Linked DNA regions of Homo sapiens: region 2 is linked to region 1. Evidence: fine-mapped expression QTL. A gene starts in region 1. The other region holds a variant in brackets. All regions are shown on one strand. Distances are from middle to middle.

Region 1 (9,419 bases):
TTAAAAATTTAAGGATGACTTGAACTGATAATTTTTGTTATAAATGTAAGCCCTCTGCTTTAGAAGAAATATATGCATAAAATGTTGTGGGGTATAAGTATGATATTGGAACAAAAGTTGAGGCCCCAAGGAACATTTCTAGCTACATTGCAACTGTACTAAGGGCTATTCTGTTCTATTCTTAGCAGAAGTAGCAGCAATAAATTCACATTAGTAAAAATGAACTAATGAGATAATTATCACGAAACACCATTGTATCTTTTACCATTTCATATTCTGAAGGCTTAGGTGATACCTACCTAAATTGCCAAAATAATATCATATTATATGACATGTCTGAAAAATTATTAGAGGTTGTTAATAGGACTTTCCCTCTAAAAATATTTTGTCAAGATATATACCAATGCATACACTTGCTTGGAAGGGTTGTTTTGACATGTGGAAAAATAGCTGTACCTATTTTACTTTTAATAATTATCAGTCAACTACATTAATATCCCTCTTTTCCAAAGGAGATCCTGTTGCTGCAAGGAAGAATGTGAGAGCAATGAAACACAAATTTGTTTATCTGTATGCAGAAGAAAAATAACAAACTATGAACATAGAAAAAATGGAAATACAGCCTCAAAAACCTTTAGCTTTCCTGTTTTAAATTTTAGCTTCCTCCAGAGAAGAAATTTATGCATTCAATTTTAATAAAAAAAGCTTTAAAATCTCATAAGTCTTCCCTTTTATCATACTGATGAAATTTTATTAAGACTATAACTTTTCATCATAAAAATATTTCTTGGACTTGATATTGCTCAAATTTCCTGTCAATCTGACAGGCATATGTTGTAATGTTATAAAGAATAAGCACCTCCTTTTGTGAACATAATATACCCTCAACTCAGAAAACGGAAAGAAAATAAATTATTCTACAGGCCTTTGCTTTAGTTGAGGTACTGTTAAGTGTGGCAGGCATCATCCTGGATAAGATATTTTCATTCCAGGCCAAAAGAAGGAAAGCTTTTCCCTGACATACACCAATCATGAACATGTTGATTATATAGGTAGTTGCTACAAGCTGTCAAATCATCAACTATGAATGACAAGTTGACAGAAGCACAAATAATTATTGTCTGTGGACTTTGCCCATTCAAAAGTCTTTACACAGTAAAGATCTAAGGATAATCCTTCCATTTTGTGCCTATTGCAACAGTCTCGAGGCACAACTGGGGCTGGAATGAAGGCCACCTGAATCTTAACAGTGAGGGTCTATTTTACAACCTAACAATGGTTAGTGGTGGATTAAAATCTGTCCTGAGGGGAAGAAGACAAATGAGAGGCTCACGCAAAAAAGGAGTTCCATAATGCGAAGTCAGTGGCAATCAAAAGGTTCAGATTTTTGAGACTGTATCTTACACAATATCTGATGGCCATTTAAGGAGACATGTAAAGAAAAGTACCTGTATACCAAACTTATTGCTGTATAAAGAACAGCAAAAACAATAAATTCCCTGTACAGTAGTTTGTAGATGCTGCCTCTCCACTTGAGGAGTAACCTATGAAATCCAAAAAAAGTTGCATTTGCTACTTTACTGGAGTAAGTGACAGTCATCTTGGATAGTTTTTTCTAGAAGAGCAAGAAGACAAAACACAAGTAAAAAGCAATGTTTAAAATAGGGCATAAATCTGTATGTCTGTATATCAAGGAAATTCAAGCCAGCAACTAGTCAGCCATATCTCTGTTTTGTCTTTCTTAGTTTCTATAATTCGGAACTTTCAGATAACCATTATCTCAGTTTAGCAGAAAGCAGGAGGAAAGCAGTCTCTGGGAAGAGTAATATTAGACATCTTAAACTTGCCTTAACTGTTAAATATTATTTTTAGATTATATAGCCATTGGCCAATATATATTTGAATGAACAAATGAGACAAACAAGGCCCTCGTGAGAATTTAATTGATGGGGCACTTTTGGTGGGTTTGATTGCATGTAGATGTCTCTCTAGTGGAGGTCCAAATGCATCGTTAGCACTCATTGCATTTCAAAAGTCAGCCAAAAAGTTGGGTCATAGTGATAAATAAGAATGGTGCAGTTTCCCCATGACAAGTTGTACATAAATGCTTAGGGATGGTTCACATTCTCTTTGGAGTTGAACAAAATGAGGTCATTATTTACAACTCTTTCTACTTGAGTCCATTTCATGAATGTGGTTAGGATGAGCACTGGGCCCAAAAGCCTTGTTTTTGGTGAGTTCTTTGGAATTCCACCACTTTTCACCAAGACATTAAATATTCAGGTTTTGAAACAGACAGCGCAAAGCTAATCTTTGAAAATCTTGCTCAATTTCTGGCTAAGATAGAACATATGCAAATAAAATGAGATTTATTTAAAATCTTACTTTTCTCAAAAGGATCTATGAGGAGAGTCTTATAGAGCTACTTAGACTGAAATCATGAAGCTTTTAGATAGAATTGTACTAGACACAAAAAATAAATTCTGTAGCAGATTTCTTTTGTAAAGTAGCCTACACCACACATTTTATCATAAACAAGAAAATTTTCTATCTTTACTCATTGCTGGAAAAACAATTCAACTCTGATTTGCCTATTTTCCCTAAGGAAATGAAACTCTGGAGCTACGTTTACAGCATTTTCTAAAATCACAAACTTAGCTTTCAACATTACTGATTTTAATAAAGAAGGTAGGGCCTTTTGGCACAAGTAAGTGGCATTACAAAAGGATGGGACTCATGCCACAAAACCGGTTTTATTTTTCCATCTTTACCTTGTCTATTTGCCTAGTGCGAATACAGCCAAAATTGGGAGAGGAGCATAATAAATTAAACCCATTTCATAATTTGTTCTCATGGACTCCCGGTAGTTTTAAATAACAGTCCTTAATTAACTTTCCTTTCTTTCATTTAGTAGTTCACTCTTCTTTTCAAGCTCTGCCAGGAAAATGAAAATCACAGCAAGTAGAGGTCAGAATTAAAATGCATAGGTTTACTCTGGGCACTAACCTATTTATTTGGTTTGTAGTCTCCGACAGGAAAGAGAATCTTCAAATTTCGGGCTCCCCCGAAGAGGTGCCTTCAGGTCGGTGCTGCACGCCCGGTGTCACCCTTCGCTCGTGCACAGTCAGATTTTCTTTCTGTTCTCTGGCCACTGAGAGGACCCAGAGTGTGACAAGAACAGGGGTTAAATGTTTTTCCACTTGTAGAGGCCTGTTTATGCCAGTTTAGCCACTGATGACAGTTATAGCTGGGAACAAACAGAAGCAACAGCTGCTGATGCTGCTTTTTTCTAAGCTATAATTATAACTCCACCTGCCACCCCAAGTACCCCTTTGAATGAGAAGTTGGCAGTGACATGAAGGATGTTGGGCCGTTTGTCTGTTAGATTCATTTGACTCCACCCTGGGATCAAGGAAGAAAGGTTGATTTGGCCCTAAAGAGTTCAAAAAAGAGGCCCCACCAGCCAAAAAAAAAAAAAAAAAGTCTTTTTGTGCTTGAAATGAAGATTAAATTCTTAAAACTGGGCTGGAACGCGGTGGCCCACACCTGTAATCCTAGCACTTTGGGAGGCTGAGGCAGGCAGATCACCTGAGGTCAGGAGTTCGAGACCAGCCTGGCCAACATGGTGAAACGCTGTCTCTACTAAAAATACAAAAATTAGCTGGGTCTGGCGGTGGGCTCCTGCAATCCCACCTACTTGGGAGGTTAAGGCTGGAGAATCACTGGAACCCAGGAGGCGGAGGTTGCAGTGAGCTGAGATCACACCACTGCACTCCAGCCTGGGCGACAGAGCGAGACTCTGCCTCAAAAAACAGATGAAAAAATTCTTATGAAGCCATAAACTGGGGCAGACAAGAATATAAACAGGATTTTTGCCACTTGAGAGGTGTTGAAAATGTTCTTCAATTAAAAGCAACGATTATGTGTTAGTGTGTGTGTGGTGTGTGTTTGTGTGTTAGAAGAACACATAGAGAATCATGATATATTGATGGCTTAGTGTAGTGGGAAATAATAACACATGGATTCATCACATTTTTTTTCTTTTAAGATGGAGTCTCGCTCTGTCGCCCAGGCTGGAGTGCAGTGGCACGATCTTGGCTCACTGCAACCTCACCTCCCGGGTTCAAGCGATTTTCCTCCCTCAGCCTCCCAAGTAGCTGGGATTACAGGTGCACACCATCACACCGGCTAATTTTTTATATTTTTGGTAGAGATGAGGCTTCACCATGTTGGCCAGGCTGATCTCGAGCTCCTTACCTCAAGTGATCTGCCTGCCTCGGCCTTCCAAAATGCTGGGATTACAGGCGTGAGGCAACGCACCCGGCCAGATTCATCACATTTGTTATCCTTCCATGGTCAGCTAGGAAATTTTTTCTTTTTTTTTTTGAGATGGAGCTTTGCTCTTCTTGCCCAGGCTGGAGTGCAATGGTGCCGATCACGGTGCACTGCAACCTCCGCCTCCCGGGTTCAAGCGATTCTCCTGCCTCAGCCTCCTGAGTAGCTGGGATTACAGGCATGCGCCACCATGCCCAGCTAATTTTGTATTTTTAGTAGAGACAGGGTTTCTCCATGTTGGTCAGTCTGGTCTTGAACCCCCGACCTCAGGTGATATGCCTGCCTCGGCCTCTCAAAGTGCTGGGATTACAGGTGTGAGCCCACCACACCCGGCGCATAGTTTCTTTCTTTTCTTTTCCTTCCTTCCTTCCTTCCTTCCTTCCTTCCTTCCTTCCTTCCTTCCTTCCTTCCTTCCTTCGTTCCTTCCTTCGTTCCTTCCTTCCTTCCTTCCTTCCCTCCCTCCCTCCCTCCCTCTCTCTCTCTCTCTTCTTTCTTTCTTTCTTTTTTTGAGACACAGTCTCACTCTGTCGCTTAGGCTGGAGTGCAATGGCACAATCTTGGCTCACTGCAACCTCTGCCTCCTGGGTTCATGCAATTCTCCTGCCTTAGCCTCCCGAGTAGCTGGGACTACAGGCGTGTCCCACCACACCTGGCTAATTTTTGTATTTTTGGTAGAGAGGGAGTTTCACCATATTGGTCAGGCTGGTCTTGAACTCCTGACCTGGTGATTCGCCCTCCTCAGCCTCCCAAAGTGCTGGAATTATAGGCGTGAGCCATCGCGCCCAGCCCCATATTTTCTTTCTTAAAAGAGAGAATTCACCAGCGTTCTTTAAGTAATAAAATAAATAATTTCAGGGCCAATTCCTGGGACTTTTCCAACCTTCTAAAGTAACTTGTGCACCCTTGCACCTTAACTTAAAGAAAATGTATTTTTGTGGAGAAAGATATAGAAAAAAATGCTTATTCTAAAATTAAGATTACATATAATTAAATTTTTCTAAAACAGTAAGTTTTATATGCATTTCGCTGGATTCTTTATCAAATTCTAGGTACCTTAGATTAGAGCAAAGCCAGGGCTGTAGGTATCTTTTTAATTTCTTGCCCCCATCCCTGTTCATAATTCCAGTATGGAGCCCTGTGAATAATGAATATTTAGTATGTATTTGCTGTTTGATTATTCCTTACCTTCACTATTATAATTCTGTTGGTTATTTGAGGGAATTTGTGAACATTTAAAAAGCATATATACAATGTTGCACATCTTATGTTGTGTTGCCATGAAAAGTGGTCTGATAGATCTGATGTTATGTTTATAAAGGTTTGCAAGACGAATCTCAGCAAATCTAAACCCAAATGCTTATGAAATAGGAACATCGGAGGTATTTTGTAAAATTCTCACTCTTGCATCTCCTATTGGTTGTGTGGTGGCCCTGACAGCTGGCATATTCCCAGCAGCCATGACTGCATAGCTAGGGGATCTGCCTCTGTGGGGCACTGAACGCACTGTTGGTTGGTTTCATTTCTAAACAGGGATAATTATGTTCCTCTCTCCCATTGGGTTGTTTTGAGGAATGACTAATTAATGGTTGGAGACAGCATTCTAAATGCAAATTAGTCAATAATGATCAGATTGAATGAACAAACTCCCATTGTTGAGCTCTGAATCTGGTGGTGATTTCTAACAGGTACTGAAAGAGGCCTTGTCGAAATAGCCCTGCTTAGAGGAGACAAGCCACTAAAGCTTATTTTAAAATATCCAACAAACACCGGATTGCAAAGTTGAAGGCTCATATCACTTTTTAAATCGAACTTTAAAGTTTCTTTAGAAATTTTTTTCCAGATTCTAAAAGTAAAATATGATTATTAAAAAATAAAAAGGAAAACAACATATAAAGAAGACAGTGGCACTCTGTCCTGCCACACTAGAGGGGTGGTATCATTTGGCATAAAGTTAATCTTGCTAGACTTTTGTGGAAAATATTTTAACCCTATAATTAATAGCAAACGATATGATAGACCCTTAGGCAATTTCAGGGCTCTATGAAATAACTATACCAGCCATATTTTCCCTTGACAGTAAACATCAAGTTATGTGATTTTGACCACTCTGATTTTCAACAGTCCAGAGTAGCACATTTGTCTTTGATTCCAGTAAACCTCCAATGACAGGGCAATTCATAGAAAAGAACAAGGAATCATTTCCACTTGGAATCCTGATATTCACCTATAGATGTCAAAATAAATCTCTTTGTTCCTTAAGGAAACAGGAAATAGTAACAACAACAAGTTTACGTAGCCAATACCACCTTCTACTTGAGAAGCAGCTATTTAGAAAGCCCCACATTCATTTTAAACTGATTTGACATGTCTCCACTGACATGAGAAGTCTCTTGTCAAATTTCTTCTGAGTGATTAGTTGAACATAAATTGTGTGTAGATAACACATGTATTCAAATATTAACCAAAGACCAGACGTTGTATTTTGGAGGATTTGATTCTGAACCTAAGACTTTGGGACATTACTAAGTGGGCAATCAATCAATGTTTTTGATGGGGAAAGGGTTCGAAAAAATCCGAGCTGCAGAAATGTGAGTCTCTGGGAAGAGTGTGTGATGAATTGGAGTGGGTAGGGACTATAGAAGGGGAATCAATTTGAAGGTTATTTTGGTTGTTCTGGGATAAACTGGGATGGTGGGTGGGTGGGTGGGTGGAATGCAGAGGAAGGATGGTGGGAGAGAGCCCAGGGGATAGCTACCACTGCAGGGAGGGGAAGAAGAGCAGGGGTAGGCGAGAGGAGGAGGAGAAGGAGGAGGAGGAAAAGGAGGAGGCAAGAGGAGGAGGAGGAGGAAAGAGAAGTATCATATGACACTTCCTTTGTCCTTTGAGTCTGTTTGCTCATGAAGAACAAAGATTATGGAACATGATTCTCAAATTTGTTCAGGTATGCTGTTCTTGATGACATGCCATGAACTTTTGATGTGTTTTATTTTATCCTGCAAATAAAAACATTCTACCAGCAAAAATGGATGCAAACTCAAGTTTCAAGTGGGAGCCCATGTGCCCATAAAAAAATAAAGTTGCTGAATTAAGTATGATTAGTCTGGCCCAGGCACAGTGGCTCACGCCTGTAATCCCAGCACTTGGGGAGGCTGAGGCAGGCAGATCACAAGGTCAGGTGATCGATACCAGCCTGGTCAATGTGGTGAAACCCCGTCTCTACTAAAAATACAAAAAAATTAGCCAGGCATGGTGGCACATGCCTGTAGTCCCAGCTACTGAGGAGGCTGAGGCAGGAGAATCGCTTGAATCCAGGAGGCGGAGGGTGCAGTGAGCTGAGATCGTGCCACTGCACTCCAGCCTGGGTGACACATCAAGACTCCGTCAAAAAAAAAAAAAAAAAAAAAAAAAAAAAAAAAGAATGATTAGCCTGTGGTTAGTGGTCAGTTTTCCTGTTAATACTTCTTTCTGGAACTTATGTTGCTATGTGCTGGATTTCTCTAGAAAAAAGATAGCAAACAGTGCTAAAAGTTCAAGAAAAATTCAGAGTAAAACGTAGAGAACAGTCCTCATTTTTTTTTTCCACAGCAGAATACACTGGTTTGGTTAGTTTCAGAACCAATTATAGTGATCATGTTTTCCTACAGGTAAATTTTTACTTGCCCAGTTGGATGGTGATCTTCTTGAGAACTCATGTCCTACTCTTTCTTGTTTTTTTTCTTTTTTTCCTATTTACTGCTTGCAACAATGGATCCAACAGCTGCATAACAAACACTGTTTGGGGTAAATCATGTGGCACTCCAGGTGTGCAGAGGTTTCTGTGTATGTCATTGGACATAGAACTGTGCCAAAAATCAAACCAAAGAGGATGGAAAACCTCTTCAATTAATTTATTATCTTTGATTTCAGGGGAGATATAGTGAACTCCTCAGACTAGAAAGACTATTGCGTTTTATTACAGCTGAAGCTCTAAGCTCATAAGAGACTGGATATTTGAGGAGTCATCATTACTTTCCTAGCATAGAGTAATTGCTAACTCAACAAAACAGAAATGCACTAGTTCAAATTTTGAAGGTTATCTTTTTCTAATGGAAGGTATGGAAACTTTGTTCTATTTTAGAGATGAAAGCTTAGAGTCTAGAGTATTATGATTATGGTGCTGAATGTGTATCCTGTACTCTATAATTGATGACTTTTTAAAAATGAATGGTATTATTCATCTCAAATACATTCCAGATTGCTAAAGAAAAAAAATTTCACATAGAATCAATTAAAAATCAGCTTAATTTTACAAGAAAAGGCACATGAATTCAAGAATATTGTTTATTCCAAACAGCTGTGAAATTCTGTTACTTTACCACTGTGATTGTAGAAGGTAGTGGAAATTATGTTACTGTATGGGTAAAGGCAACATATAGGTAAATAGAAAAATGCTATGCATAAATATGTGGGCAATTCTAAAATACCTTTTCTCGTGTAGTAAAATGCACGTGGAAATGAAAAACCCATGTTGGTTCTGGTTTTCTTTTTTTCCTTTTTTTTTTTGAGACAGAGTCTCCCTCTGTTGCCCGGCCTGGAGTGCAGTGGTGCAATCTCGGCTCACTGCAAGCTCCGCCTCCCAGGTTCACGCCATTCTCTTGCCTCAGCCTCCCAAGCAGCTGGGACCACAGGCGCCCGCCACCACGCCCGGCTAATTTTTTGTATGTTTAGTAGAGACGGGGTTTCACTGTGTTAGCCAGGATGGTCTCGATCTCCTGACCTCGTGATCCGCCTGCCTCGGCCTCCCAGAGTGCTGGGATTACAGGCGTGAGCCACCACGCCCGGCTGGTTCTGGTTTTCTAATATGGTATATTGAGCATTCTTCAGACATCTTTTCAGTCCTTTAACATATAACAGCTCCTTAATAGTGGTTACTGCTGGGGAGAGTAGTAGGTTTGGAGTAAGGGGGGAAGAAAAAAACTTCAGTTTTTGCTCCATATAATTTTATATTTTAAAAAGTAACATCTATATTTTAATATGTAATCATATTAAATAAATGAAATAAAAATCAGACTTGATGCCACTTCCAAATTCATACCTCCAGCTCA
Region 2 (9,624 bases), 770 kb before region 1:
CCAGTAATGGGATGGCTGGGTCAAATGGTATTTCTAGTTCTAGATCCCTGAGGAATCGCCACACTGACTTCCACAATGGTTGAACTAGTTTACAGTCCCACCAACAGTGTAAAAGTGTTCCTATTTCTCCACATCCTCTCCAGCACCTGTTGTTTCCTGACTTTTTAATGATCGCCATTCTAACTGGTGTGAGATGGTATCTCATTGTGGTTTTGATTTGCATTTCTCTGATGGCCAGTGATGGTGAGCATTTTTTCATGTGTTTTTTGGCTGCATAAATGTCTTCTTTTGAGAAGTGTCTGTTCATGTCCTTCACCCACTTCTCGATGGGGTTGTCTGTTTTTTTCTTGTAAATTTGTTTGAGTTCATTGTAGATTCTGGATATTAGCCCTTTGTCAGATGAGTAGGTTGCGAAAATTTTCTCCCATTTTGGAGGTTGCCTGTTCACTCTGATGGTAGTTTCTTTTGCTGTGCAGAAGCTCTTTAGTTTAATTAGATCCCATTTGTCAATTTTGGCTTTTGTTGCCATTGCTTTTGGTGTTTTAGACATGAAGTCCTTGCCCGTGCCTATGTCCTGAATGGTAATGCCTAGGTTTTCTTCTAGGGTTTTTATGGTTTTAGGTCTAACGTTTAAGTCTTACACCAGTAACAGACAAACAGAGAGCCAAATCATGAGTGAACTCCCATTCACAATTGCTTCAAAGAGAATAAAATACCTAGGAATCCAACTTACAAGGGACATGAAGGGCCTCTTCAAGGAGAACTACAAACCACTGCTCAATGAAATAAAAGAGGATACAAACAAATGGAAGAACAATTCCATGCTCATGGGTAGGAAGAATCAATATCGTGAAAATGGCCATACTGCCCAAGGTAATTTATAGATTCAATGCCATCCCCATCAAGCCACCAATGACTTTCTTCACAGAATTGGAAAAAACTACTTTAAAGTTCATATGGAACCAAAAAAGAGCCCGCATTGCCAAGTCAGTCCTAAGCCAAAAGAGCAAAGCTGGAGGCATCATGCTACCTGACTTCAAACTATACTACGAGGCTACAGTAACCAAAACAGCATGGTACTGGTACCAAAGCAGAGATATAAATCAATGGAACAGAACAGAGACCTCAGAAATAACGCCGCATATCTACAACTATCTGATCTTTGACAAACCTGAGAAAAACAAGCAATGGGGAAAGGATTCCCTATTCAATAAATGGTGCTGGGAAAACTGGCTAGCCATATGTAGAAAGCTGAAACTGGATCCCTTCCTTACACCTTATACAAAAATTAATTCAAGATGGATTAAAGACTTAAATGTCAAGCTGCTTTTTAAAAGAGAATAGAGAGGTGCTTGGGAAATAGGCAGATCTGAGTTTGAATCTTCTAATACTTAGCTATGTTATCTTCAGCAAGTTAATTAACCTCTCTGTGCCTCATTTTACCTGTTTTGTAAATGAGGATAAGGCCTACTTTGAGTTGCTGAGATCGAAATAATGTCTTAAACTATTTACTACATGGAAAGTACTTGATAACAGAGACTACTAAATTTGGCTGGCTTTAAAAAATCTCTAATAGTATTATCACTAGTAAGGAAGGTGTTATTATCCCGCCTACTGTATTCAGATACAATGATGATCAGACTTAGCAGGAGGCAAGACAAGATACTTTTTTTTTTTTTTTGAGACAGGGTCTTGCTCTGTAGGCCAGGCTGGAGTACGGTGGCACGATCATGGCCCACTGCAGCCTTGAACTCCCAGGCTCAAGTGATTCTCCTGCCTCAGTTTCCCAAGTAGCTGGGACCACAGGCATGCACCATTATGCCTGGTTAATTAAATTTTTTTTTTTTTTTTTAAGAAATGGAGTCTCCCATGTTGCCTAGGCTGGTCTCCTGAAGTGCTGGGATTATAGACGTGAGCCACCACACCCAGTCAATGCAAGATTCTTAAAATAGATGGTAGGAAATCTCATTTAAAATGGCCCTTTGGGGTTTTGTATGTAGCAGAGCAGTTCTTTCATTGCTATCTATTGATAGTCAACCCTCAACACAAGGGTTCATTTTTTAAAAAAATAATAAAATGTTCCTAAACTAATTTTGGGGTGTGTGTGGAGAGACTACCCTGAGAAATTCACAGTAAATACATTTGTATTTGAAAATGAGCTACCTAATGGCAGGGAATGAATGACACACACGTTTGTTTGCTTCCCATGCCTTTTGCTCAGCAAATATTTGATCCATTAAATAAATAGATATAGATTATTGATTATGTGCCAGGCATCCTTCTAGACAAAGGGGTTGGGGCAAAAAATGGGAGGTGCTTCCTTAATTGAACGGAGGATTGAACGAACGAACTGATGAACACTGTACCTTTTCTGATTTTTCTGAACTAAGTCATCAGTACTTTTTTGCTTCTCTTGTTTCACCTAAGATTTTCTTTACTATGTCACTAGGCAGTGGGATTTCCTTCAAAAGGCTCAACTGAAATATGGTCTACTATGGCTGAAGCTGGGTATAGATGTGTTTAACTTTTGTGTGGATTTTAAAAGTTTCAAAATAAAAACGTTTTTAAAAATCACCAATAATAATAGAAGGTAATTATCATGACATGTATCAATGGTTTTATAGTATCCCTGTTTATAACAGAGTTAACCAAAAACTATACAGATGCTCAAAGAGGTGAATGACTAAGAAAATTCACATAATCAAGAGGATAGAATACTAAACAGCAACGAATTCACATCTACCGACTTTGTCAATTCATGGAAATATCTAAGGAAATAACATGAAATGAAAAAACAAGCAGAATATAATCCACAATTACAACAAAGAAAATATGTGATATGCATATATTTACATAGGCATAGCACATATATTTAAGTTTTTACAAAAACTAAACATGTATTTAGTTACTTAGGAATATTACTTTCCCTTCTGGGTAAGACTGCCCACGTTAATACATGTAATATAAATAAATAAATAAATAACACGTGTATAATAAATTCTGTTTATTTTCTTTTATTTTGAGATAGAGTTTCACTCTTGTCACCCAGGCTGGAGTGCAGTGGCATGATCTTGGCCCACTGCAACCTCTGCCTCCTGGGTTCACGCTATTCTCCGGTCTCAGCCTCTCTAGTAGCGGGAACCACAGGTGCACACCACCATGTCTGGTTAATTTTTTGTATTTTTAGTAGAGACAACGTTTCACCATGTTGGCCAGGCTGGTCTCAAATTCCTGACCTCAGGTGATCCTCCCGCCTCGGCCTCCCAAGGTGCTGGGATTACAGGCATGAGTCACTGGGCCTGGTCATAAATTCTGTTTTCTAAGCAAACTTATCTTACATCAGAGGGCAGAATGGTTAGGGAAAATATCTAGTGAAAAAGACCACCAACAAAGGAGCACCATCTCTCAATTGTCACACTAATGTGCAGTGACACTTTGGCAACTGACTCCCAGTTACTGGCATACAGTTTCATCTACCAGTTGGAGCCAAATGGCAGATTTGGGATTTTTCTTAATCCGAGTTATTATTCAGAACAACATATTCAACACAAATATTTAACCACTAGTGTCAGATTTTATTTTTACATGATAACTCCTCAAGCCTTTAACCGCAAGAGTGCATACAAGGTAAAATTAAAAACAAAATTAAGCCTGCTGACTTTCACTGTGATTGTGGTTTGATATCATGCAGGATAGATCACAACTGCTGATTCATATTAGGAAAGAGAGCCCCCAACTGTCACAAGCACATTGTGTTTGAAAATACAAAACCTTACCAAATCACTTAGTACTTAAAATTAACAACATCCTCATCATCTTGTGGTTGAAATGATGACTGAACAATAACTCAAGCTAGTTGTGTTCTATATATTTTTAATTAATATAATTAGTATTCCTAGATCTTTTTAAATTGCTCTACTCTAGCCCTAGGGAAAAATGATTTCAGAAGGCTGAATACGTATGCTGATTCAAGATATGATTTCTCACACACCCAACCTCTATAATTTTGGATTATAGAGCAATATAGAGTAATTCTGGCACCATCTCTTTGGCAATGCTGTTTAAAAACAAAGTTACTATTACACACAGCCCAGGATATTGACTTCGCATTGCACATAAATACATTTATATAATACTTTTTCTTTAATATAGAAGCCATAGCCTTGATTTTTTTGAAAAATGATGAAGAATATGGTAATTATGAGACTCTCAATTGACTCAAAAGTTCAGAGCTAAAATCAAGGTAGAGTTTGAACACACCTTACAAAAAGTTGAGATCCAAATTGCATAAAATTTATGAAACTTTTGATTTAAGGACTAAGTTTTCTGGTAACCTCTTTGGGAACATCAGGATAATAAAAGATGATTAAGTAATAATGGTATCTCGGCCGGGCACGGTGGCTCATACCTGTAATCCTAGCACTTTGGGAGGCCGAAGCAGGAGGATCACAAGGTCAGGAGTTTGAGACCAGCCTGGCCAATATGGTGAAACCCCATCTCTACTAAAAATACAAAAAAATTAGCCAGCTGTGGTGGCGCATTCCTGTAATCCCAGCTACTCGGGAGACTGAGGCAGGAGAATTGCTTGAACTCAGGAAGCCGGAGGTTGCAGTGAGCCGAGATCACGCCACTGCACTCCAGCCTGGGCAACAGAGCGAGACTCTGACCAAAAAAAAAAAAAAAAAAAAAAGAAAGAAAGAAAGAAAGAAAGAAAGATGAAATAACGATATCTGATCAAATTATTTGCCTTGGCCGGATGGGTGCCAGTCCTGGCTATAAAATTCACCATCTGGGAGACCTTGAACAAATTATTTAATTTATCTGATTCAAACTTGCTGTCTATAAAAATGAAAATAACTTTATGTAGTTTCTAACTTAGAACAATAAATTATTAATGATAAATATGAAAATGCTGGGAAGAGTTTCAATCACTACTAATATATATTCATTATCTAGCATTGTCTTCTTCAAATGGATACATTTTAAAAACAGCCTTTAATCATAGAACCACTTTTTTGCATAACTTTAAGCCATAGGGCTAATTATACACGACACAAATCTAACCAACAGAACTGTACTACTTAGATTAAAAGAAACTTGCAGAAATGATAGTTTTGCATAACTTTAAATAAAAGGCTAACTACAGATGACACAGAAATCTTACCAACAAAACTGCATTATTTCAGTTTAAAAGAGACATGAAGAAATGACATTAACAGTCCAAGTCATATATAAAGAAGCCCACACAAAGGGGAACTGAAACGGATAAACGGACTTACTTGGGAGTTTATCTTGAAAAGGAACTAAAACATACATCCCAAATAACCAATGTCTGCAAGATCCAAAAAGACAGAAGAACTCCAATAATGGAAAGGACTCAGTGACACTGAATTACAATGGACAAGTCCAGTAAAATTCAGTTCTTCCTACTATTCCTCCCAACAAAAGCAGAAAACAACCAACACGCACGGTACCGGTTGACTTGTTCTGTGCCACTCAGAGTAGGTGCGTGGAAGAGCAGACAGGAAGCTGGGGCATATTTAATGAATACTGAAAGGGAGGACTGAGGGTTTGGCAAAGTGTTCACGAGACGGACCCTACCTTTCACAGATTTCCCAATACTGTGTAAGTGAGTGACAGAACTGTAGTTTTGGGCAACAGTCTTCAAAAACGCTTCCATCCCTTCCTGG[C/T]GGTGGTAGTTGAAATCCAGCGCAGCTACCAAAGGCAGCAACAGCCCTAGCCAGAGGCACGGGAAGTCCATGTTCTAGAGATGAATAAAAATAAGAAGAACCTGAGAACACATGAGGGCAGGCGGGGGCATCACCAGCTACGTCTCGGTACTCCGGTCTCAGGGTCTCCCGACACTGACGCTCCCTGCCTCCTAAGGAGGCAAAAGCTGGAAGCAACACCTTCGGGAGTGAGCCGTGCAACCAGAGACCGGGAGCACGGGCAGCCTCGGTGCCCTCGACCCAGCCGCCCGCGCCTCCCTCTCCTCCTCCTCCTGGCGCCTCCGCCGTCCGGCAGCTGCCACAGCTGCGCCCGGCCCCGCGCACCCCCAGCCTCACCAGGTCCCAGGCGCGCACCTCTACCCACCCGCGGCCGCCCGGCGGGGCCGGGTGTTATAGCCCGGTCAGAGGGCGGGCGCGCCCGGGCCCCGCCCCCGGACGTCCCTCCGGCCCACTCCGGAGCCGCGCGGGTGCCTCCCGGGCGGGGCCTCAGCCGCCTTCGCACCTAGGAGAGACGGCGCCCGCGCGGTGCGCCCTTTCGTGGCGCGGCTGCTGGTGCCCGCGGCCGGGCGGCTGAGCTGGGCGGAGGGCTGCGGGCATGGAGTCGCCGCTCGCGGACAGTCTTTGCTGGAGCCCCAGGTCAGAAGTGTGTCCTCGCCTCGGCCACGGCTGTAGCCTGGGCAGCCACAGGGCGCTCCACCGAGGGACACTCTCTGTCGCAGACTGCAGCCGCTTGGGAGACGTTTAGGGCTCGGCGGGTTTCCTGCGGTTGGCGGTGCCGGGGCCCACCTGGAGCCGGGACGCATGCGGAGTCCTGAGTGCCCTGAGCCCCGCGCGGGCTCCTGCGGGACGGGCGGCGTCGGCCCCGGCAGGGCGAGCCAAGCTCCCAGCAGTGCCAAGCTGCCCAGCGAGGCTAAGCAATCACGGGGCTTCGAGAAAGAACGCGCGCGTGTGTGGAAGTTTTAAATGCCACGAAGTGCAGAGTGCAGGACATTTTCCAACAAGTTTACATAGTGGGTGGGATTTGTGTAAATTAGAATTGAATTTAAAACTGGAAGTCACATCGAAGAAGGCAGGACCACTGTTGTAAATCCGATGCTTCCTCCACCTGCACCTGAGTCTTAGGCCAATTACAGGTCTCTCGTCCTAAAACGTCCTAAAATGCTCCTTTCTGGAAGGATGGCATGGTCTCTGCACGAGAGAGAACGAAGGCTTCACTCAAACCTGAGAGGTGGTTTGTGGCACGGGCCAACCCCCTCTACCTCTCTAAAAGATTCATTCTCATTCATTCTCTCTCTCTCCCCTCCCCCTCTCCCCTTCCCTCTCTCCCCCTTTCTCCCACTCTCTCCCGGATTGTAAGTAACCGTGTCAGGGTATTGGGGGCCCGTGTCAAGGTCCGCAGAATATAAAAAGTTTGAAAACCACTGATTTGAGATAACATTCCACTTTTACAGACTAAAAATACGGATGCAAGCCCACGACTAATTGAATAGAATTTTTCTCGTGGAGGCCCAAGAAAGTGTATTTTTAGAGAGGACCTTGAATGAATCTAATGTGCCTTCAAGAGCTGAGAACCGTTAGATTCCCTGCCCCTTCTTTCTTACAGATATAGATACTTTTCCTAGAATTGCGCACTCAGGACTCCCTGAGACTTCCAGTGATTCTGCCGCAGCATAGAAGAGTGGTTTAAGAACTGAGGCGCTCTGCCCTTGCGATAGTTTGCTGAGAATGATGGTTTCCAGCTTCATCCATGTCCGTACAAAGGACATGAACTCATCCTTTTTTATGGCTGCATAGTATTCCGTGGTGTATATGTGCCACAGTTGTGCACATGTGCCCTAGAACTTAAAGTATATATAAAGAAAAAAAAAGAACTGAGGCGCTCACGGGATGAGTGCCAATTCTTGCTCTGACACTCAGTGGCTGTGTCGACTCTGTGCCTTATTTTCTGGTGTGTAAAGTGGAAGTCTTAATTGTACCTACCTAAATAAGGTTGGCAGGCACATTGTAAGAACTGTGCGAAGCGTTTATTACATAAATAAACCAGCTTAATTCGTAACTCTTTAAAGGGAATTTTCCAAGAGTTGGAATTTTTTTTTTAATTTTTTATTTCTTTCTTTATTTTTTGAGATGGAGTCTCAATTCTGTTGCCCAGTCTGGAGTGCAATGGCATGATCTCGGCTCACTGCAACCTCCTCTCAGGTTCAAGCAATTCTCCTGCCTCAGCCTACCGAGTAGCTCGGATTACAGGCACCTGCCACCAGGCCCGGCTAATTTTTGTATTTTTAGTAGAGACGGGGTTTCACCATGTTGGCCAGGCTGGTCTGGAACTCCCGACCTCGGGCGATCTGCCTGCCTCGGCCTCCCAGATCGCTGGGATTACAGGCGTGAGCCACCGTGCCTGGCCATCTTTTTTTTTTTCTTAAAGAGAAGTTGTTTTATTGTTTGTTTGTTTGTTTGTTTGTTTGTTTGTTTTGAGATACAGTCTCACTCTGTTGCCCAGGCTTGAGTGCAGTGGTGCAATCTCAGCTCACTGCAGCCTCTGCCTTCCAGGTTCAAGCGATTCTTGTGTTTCAGCCTCTAACGTACCTGGGATTACAGGCACGCATCGCCACACCTACGTAACTTTTGTATTTTTACACCACACATGCCTAACTTCTGCATTTTTAATAGAGACCAGGTTTCACCATGTTGGCCAGGCTAGTCTTGAACTCCTGGCCTCAAGTGATCCTTCTGCCTCAGCCTCCCAAAGTGCTGGGATTACATGAGTGAGCCACCTTGCCTGGCCTAAGAGTTGGAAGTCTTAGTATGACATTGTAGAGTCTTTGAGTAGGTTTTTTTTTTTTTAATTGTGCAGTAGTCACTATGCTAAATGTTATTTCCACTGGAAGGGTTGAAGACGTTTCCCTTTCATTGTTGTTCATTGACTAAGAGGTCTGAGGAGGGGGACTGGAGCTTGAGAAGATTAAATTTAGGCAAAGTTACTCTAGGAATGGGAAAGGGAACTGGGTGGGAACAAAGTGAAGGCTTGCTGATGTACCTTAGAAATCCTATCTTTTTAAGAGAAGTACGTGGACACTATCTGATTTCCTGCAGGGTGCTGTGGCTGGAGACTGGAAGAAATGGTGGCTTCATCAATACTGGAATGGAGATTGCCAGGATTGTTGTTCTGGAAAAACAGAGATGAGCTATAGTTGAAATTGCTGCCATTGGGGTTCACACTAGGTAGGAAGGGAGGCAACTTCAGGAAGGAGTCAGAGAATGGAGGTAGGGGGTACAGAGGACTGAGTGCTGAAGGTTTAGGAGCTAGTAACTCAGAGTGCAGGCCAGGGACAGCACTGGCATCACCTGGGAGCTTGTTGGAAATGTAGAATCTGTCACTCCACTCCAAACCTACTGAATCAGAACACACATTTTAATAAGATTTCCAGATGATGTATATGTACATTCAAGTTTAAGGTGCACTGGTCAAGAGAGAAAAAAAAATTTAGTGTTAAGAGTATGAAAGATAACAGCAAAATAAAAGGTTAGCCTAATAGAGTAAAATACTGAAGTTTAGAGATTTTAGAGGTGATCTTCTTTCTTTCTTCTTTTTTTTTGAGATAGAGTCTTGCTCTGTTGCCCAGGCTGGAGTGCAGTGGCACAATTTTAGCTCACTGCAACCTCCACCTCCCGGGTTCAAGCAATTCTCCTTCCTCAGCCTCCTGAGTAGCTGGGATTACAGGTGCCCACCACCACGCCTGGCTAATTTTTGTATTTTTAGTAGAGACGGGGTTTCACCACGTTGGCCAGGATGGTCTCGAACTCCTGGCCTCAAATTATCTGCCTGCCTCAGCCTCCCAGAGTGCTGGGATTACAGGTGTGAGCCACCAGGCCTGGACCTAGAGGTGATCTTTCT

Evidence for each region.
Region 2: its variant is fine-mapped to the expression of BEST3 in pancreatic islets (PISA, PIP 0.95).

What each region holds. Positions count from the first base shown.
Region 1 is chr12:69,696,199-69,705,617 of GRCh38, forward strand. BEST3 (bestrophin 3) reads right to left here and starts at 3,105. Exons shown (of 10, transcript NM_032735.3): 1 at 3,007-3,105; 2 at 1,449-1,615. The coding sequence starts at 1,600.
Region 2 is chr12:68,927,077-68,936,700 of GRCh38, forward strand. CPM (carboxypeptidase M) reads right to left here and starts at 6,095. Exons shown (of 9, transcript NM_198320.5): 1 at 6,066-6,095; 2 at 5,602-5,764. The coding sequence starts at 5,761. RefSeq lists silencers at 5,975-6,334, 6,365-6,474. The variant C/T (reference allele first, on the strand shown) is at 5,691.